2 separate regions of the Homo sapiens genome follow, and region 2 is linked to region 1. Evidence: fine-mapped expression QTL. A gene starts in region 1. The other region holds a variant in brackets. All regions are shown on one strand. Distances are from middle to middle. Region 1 holds the start of EXTL2 (exostosin like glycosyltransferase 2). Region 2 has its middle 54 kb from the start of EXTL2.

What was found. PIP is the estimated chance that this variant, and not a neighbour inherited with it, causes the effect. A credible set is the group of variants that fine-mapping cannot tell apart.
Region 2: its variant is the best candidate, but not a certain one, in a credible set for the expression of EXTL2 in whole blood (GTEx, PIP 0.60).

What each region holds. Positions count from the first base shown.
Region 1 is chr1:100,893,101-100,896,018 of GRCh38, forward strand. It overlaps EXTL2 (exostosin like glycosyltransferase 2), which reads right to left and starts at 1,742. Exons shown (of 5, transcript NM_001033025.3): 1 at 1,533-1,742. RefSeq lists enhancers at 1,074-1,797, 1,798-2,520, 2,415-2,484.
Region 2 is chr1:100,839,805-100,842,722 of GRCh38, forward strand. No RefSeq gene overlaps it. Among named protein-coding and RNA genes, the nearest start is that of EXTL2, 54 kb to the right of the region's middle. The variant G/A (reference allele first, on the strand shown) is at 1,693.

The sequences.
Region 1 (2,918 bases):
ATTAGTTGGTAGGAGAGATATAAAAACATATTTAAAAGTTCAGGGTAGAAATCCATTTTTTAGTTTAAAAATGTTCAATAGTATATGTATTTTATGATCTTATAAACCGATTTAATCTTGTAACATACAAAGGAATTAAGAATTCTGATTGGTGACTTGCAAGATACCATTTGAACAGAGTTGAAGAATCATTTTTGATTTTCCAATACGACATATTGAAAGGGCAAAAGGAATGGCTTAGTATTTATGGAAAGACTTACTGAGTGACAGCTGTCCCTTCACACTGCTCCAAGGGCATCCCTTGTGTAAATTTTAAACATCACAGAGTTCTAAAAGACGAGACTGATTTGCCTGTCACAACCCCCCCCTTTCTTCATAACTACTCTTTTCCATAAAATTCCTCCAGGGAAGGAACTTTTTATTTATCTGGCTTTGTATCCCCAGCACCCAGCACAGAGCCTGGCACATAGAAGACATTCATTAAATGACTGTTGAATGAATGAAAGAAACAAATTTGATATGACAACAAAGATAGGTTAACATATATGGGACAAACATTATTTGACAATGACAAAAGAAGTGAGGCACAGCCTGACGTTTTTCACTCATAGAACTTTTCCTGATTTAAATAGTGTCCACCTACACTTTTATATTGCAAATAAAATGCCTTTAGTTTTAAATTTGGTCATTATGCTCTTTAAGACTGAAAGATGTGAAGACATCACCATCACTTTTTGAAAGGAGAAGGTCCTCATGGGAATACCTATCATATATCTTGGGGGATGGGGAGTGGGGGAATTTGGGAGTCTCTGGAAACTGATGTAACTGAAATTAAACTTCAATTTCTCGTACCCATTTCAAAACTATTTGAAAAGAGGTAATGTAGGTTTCTCCATAAACCACTTAAGCGATTTCTGATTTGTAGCAATACAGTATAAAATATAGGACTTATTTTCAAAGGCAGAATACAAAAAAGTTCAAAATGCAGCTGACCTTGATGAGTTAGGATTATGCTGGAAATCAGTTGCTGAAATTTAATTATTTCTATTACTTCTCCCGCCTTCTCCCAAGTTAAATCATATTGAATAAGGGCGTTTTGGAGAAAAATCCAATTACCATAGAATTATTTATCTTTAAACTATCTAGTTTGCACCCAATTAATTTTTCCTCAGCAGTGCAGTAGAGTAAAATTCAAGGTCTACTGCTAATACAAAAACTTCCTTCCAAAAAAAGAGTAAATGCTACTAATTTTAAATATTTCTACACTTAAATTAAAAGAATGAAATATACGCTAACAAAGGCAAATACAAAATACTCTTCCCAGAACTTACTTCTGAAACCTAGCTGTTTTTACACAGCAGTTTTAATTAACATTTTTCAAAATTGTAGAATAAGTACATATTTTCAAAAATAAAACCACCGAATACTCCATACACACACACAAAGTTCTCAGAACGAGAGCAAAACATGCATATATCCTCACTACAAAAAGAAAAATACTAATACTGGAGCATTTTGCTGTGTCTCCTTACCTCGAGTGCAGTAGATTGCAGTAGGGCCAGCCGATTTATTTCCCTGCAGCTTAGTTATCATAAAACGGAAGGGGCGTCTCGTTTGCTCATTTTTGTTTTTTTTTCTAAACCAAGTAGCGTGCATCTATCCTTCTCCATTAGCTGGATTAACAACCTGGAAAAAGTGCCGCCCGCAAAGTGAGCGCCTGGAGCAAGGGACAGTCCCCGAGTGGCCGCCCCTCCCTTTCGGTGACGCTCCACTTCCTGTCGGCCTAAAAGGCATTCCCAGGAAGCTCGGTTTTGTAGTTTCCAGCCCACCTCCGAAAGCCAATCCTTTCCTCCATTTCTTCTCCAAGGTAACAACTTTTAAACATTCACGTGACGGACCACCTTCCCTCAGCCAAACAACTTCCCTGAAAGGCGCCCGAAGGAGCCTTCCCATCCACCGCGGGTGCCCAGGAAAGGCCTGTGGGGCTCTCCTCCCCGCGCTCCACACGCCCTCGCATCCCACCGAGGGGCCAGCTTCTGCCTGCACGTTGCTGAAACTGGCCTGGAGGTTCTGACAAGAATTAGAGCGGCGGCCGTTGCCCCGGGGATGACCTGGAAGCGAAAGAGACCGGCACGAATTCTAGAGTTTCGGGGTTTCCGCGGGTTGAGATTGTACGGGAAACAATGCATTAACCAAACCTAAAAATCAAACAAACACGTCTGGTAGAACCTACCATTAAAAAGCTTCTTTCCTATACTACGTTTAACAGCCTTTATTTTGAAAGACATTGATTGATGCCAGGCATGGTGGCGCACGCCTGAGGTCTCAGCTACTCCGGAGGCTGAGGAGGATCACTTGCGTCCGGGAGTTCCAGGCTGTAGTGAGCCTCATTGTGCTCCAGCCTAGGTGACAGGGCGAGACCTTGTCTCTTAAAAAAATAAAGAAAGAAAAACATTGATCGCCTCCTGCGTGGCAGTCCAGAAGGGTCAAGCGCTGTTTTCGGGGTGGCGTGGAATGGATTCCTAAGATTTGGGCGCCCATAGAGTTAACGCAGCAAAACGATCACTTGCGTTTCCTGCGGACTGGCGGCAATAGAACACGTGGCTGCCTAGACTCTTAATCACTGATATCTACCACACCAGGATTTAATGCCAGTTGGGAGGAAATGGCGAAAGGGCAGGCGCTGGAGCCCATGCATCCGGGAACACTGGTGGTAGGCGGTCGGGTGGGCGTGAGCGGGCTCTCCATCTCCCAGCCCAGTCTGCAGGTCGCCACCTCAGGATTTTCTTCCTGAGTCCGGGTGGCAGGATTCCATCCCAGGTCAGCCCCTCACACCCCCTGGTAGTTGCCACCTCCTGGCGTCCCTCCAACAGCTCCAGCACCTTTCTCATCCCGCCCCCGCCGCAAGCCACGCCCTC
Region 2 (2,918 bases), 53 kb before region 1:
TGTGATGTTCTCCTCCTTGTGTCCATGTGTTCTCATTGTTCACCTCCCACTTATGAGTGAGTACATGTAGTCTTTGGTTTCAGTTCCTGTGTTAGTTTACTGAGAATGATGGTTTCCAGCTTCATCCATGTCCCTGCAAAGGACATGAACTCATTATTTTTTATGGCTGCATAGTATTCCATAGTGTATATGTGTCACATTTTCTTTATCCAGTTTATTATTGATGGGCATTTGAGTTGGTTCCAAGTCCTTGCTATTGTGAATAGTGCTGCAATAAACATATGTGTGCATGTGTCTTTATAGTAGAATGATTTATAATCCTTTGGGTATATACCCAGCAATGGGATTCCTGGGTCAAATGGTATTTCTGATTGTAGATCCTTGAGGAATTGCCACACTCTCTTCCACAATGGTTGAACTAACATACACTCCCACCAACAGTGTAAAAGTGTTCTTATTTCTCTACATCTTCTCCAGCATCTGTTGTTTCCTGACCTTTTAATGATTGCCATTCTAACCGGTGTGAGATGGTATCTTATTGTGGTTTTGATTTGCATTTCTCTAATGACCCATGATGATGAGTGTTTTTTATATGTTTGTTCACCACATAAATGTCTTCTTTTGAGAAGTGTCTGTTCACAACTTTTGCCCACTTTTTGATGGGGTTGTTTGGTTTTTTCTTGTAAATTTGTTTAAGTTCCTTGTAGATTCTGGATATTAGCCCTTTGTCAGGATAGATTGCAAAATTTTTTCCGATTCTGTAGGTTGCCTGTTTACTCTGATGATAGTTTCTTTTGCCGTGCAGAAGCTCTTTAGTTTAATTAGATCCCATTTGTCAATTTTGGGTTTTGTTACAATTGCTTTTGGTGTTTTAGTCTTAAAGTCTTTGCCCATGCCTATGTCCTGAATGGTATTGCCTAGGTTTTCTTCTAGGGTTTTTATGGTTTTAGGTCTTATGTTTAAGTCTTTAATCCATCTTGAGTTAATTTTTGTATAAGGTGTAAGGAAGGGGTCCAGTTTCAGTTTTCTGCATATGGCTAGCCAGTTTTCTCCACACCATTTATTAATAAGGAATCCTTTCCTTTCCCCATTGCTTGTTTTCATCAGGTTTGTCAATGATCAGATGGTTGTGGATATGTGGTGTTATTTCTGAGGACTCTGTTTTGTTCCATTGGTCTACATATCTGTTTTGGTACCAGTACCATGCTGTTTTGGTTACTGTAGCCTTGAGGTATAGTTTGAAGTCAGGTAATGTAATGCTTCCAGCTTTGTTCTTTTTACTTAGGATTGTCTTGGCTATATGAGCTCTTTTTTGGTTCCATATGAAATTTAAAGTAGTTTTTTCTAATTCTGTGAAGAAAGTCAGTGGTAGCTTGATGGGAATAGCATTGAATCTGTAAATTACTTTGGGTAGTATGGCCATTTTCATGATATTGATTCTTACTATCCATGAGCATGGAATGTTGTTCCATTTGTTTGTGTCCTCTCTCATTTCCTTGAGCAGAGGTTTGTAGTTCTACTTGAAGAGGTCCTTCGCATCCCTTGCAAGTTGTATTCCTAGGTATTTTATTCTCTTTGTAGCAGTTGTGAATGGGAGTTCACTCATGATTTGGCTCTGTGTCTATTATTGGTGTATAGGAATGCTTGTGCTTTTTGCACATTGATTTTGTATCCTGAGACTTTGCTGAAGTT[G/A]CTTATCAGCTTAAGGAGATTTTGGGCTGAGACAATGGGGTTTTCTAAATATACAATCATGTCATCTGCAAACAGAGACAATTTAACTTCCTCTCTTCCTATTTGAATACCCTTGATTTCTTTCTGTTGCCTGATTACCCTATCCAGAACTTCCAATACTATGTTGAATAGGAGTGGTGAGAGAGGGCATCCTTATCTTGTGGCGGTTTTCAAAGGGAATGCTTCCAGTTTTTGCCCATTCAGTATGATATTGGCTGTGGGTTTGTCATAAATAGCACTTATTATTTTGAGATACGTTCTGTCAATGCCTAGTTTATTGAGAGTTTTTAGCATGAATGGGTGTTGAATATTATTGAAGGCGTTTTCTGCATCTATTGAGATAATCGTGTGCTTTTTGTCATTGGTTCTCTTTATGTGATGGATTATGTTTATTGATTTGCATATGTTGAACCAACCTTGCATCCCAGGGAGGAAGCCAACTTGATCGTGGTGGATAAACTTTTTAATGTGCTGCTGGATATGGTTTGCCAGTATTTTATTGAGGATTTTCGCATCAATATTCATCAGGGATATTGGCCTGAATTTTTCTTTTTTTGTTGTGTCTCTGAAAGAGTTTGGTATCAGGATGATGCTGGCCTCATAAAATGAGTTAGGGTGGAGTCTCTCTTTTTCTATTGTTTGGAATAGTTTCAGAAGGAATGGTACCAGCTCCTCTTTGTACCTCTGGTGGAATTCGGCTGTGAATCTGTCTGGTACTAGGCTTTTCTTGGTTGGTAGGCTTTTAATTACTGCCTCAATTTTATAACTTGGTCTGTTTGGGGATTCGACATCTCCCTTGTTTAGTCTTGAGAAGGTGTATGTGTCCAGGAATTTATCAATTTCTTCTAGATTTTCTAGTTTATATGTGAAGAGGTGTTTATAGTATTCTCTGATGGTAGTTTGTTTTTCTGTGGGATCAGTGGTGATATCCACTTTATCATTTTTTACTGTGTCTATTTGATTCTTCTGTCTTTTCTTCTTTAGTAGTCTGGCCATCAGACTATCTCTTTTGTTGATCTTTTCAAAAAACCAAATCCTGGATTCACTGATTTTTTTAAAGGGTTTTTTTCTGTTTCTATCTCCTTCAGCTCTCCTCTGATCTTAGTTATTTCTTGTCTTCTGCTAGCTTTTGAATTTGTTTGCTCTTGCTTCTCTAGTTCTTTTAATTGTGTTGTTAGGGTGTTGAT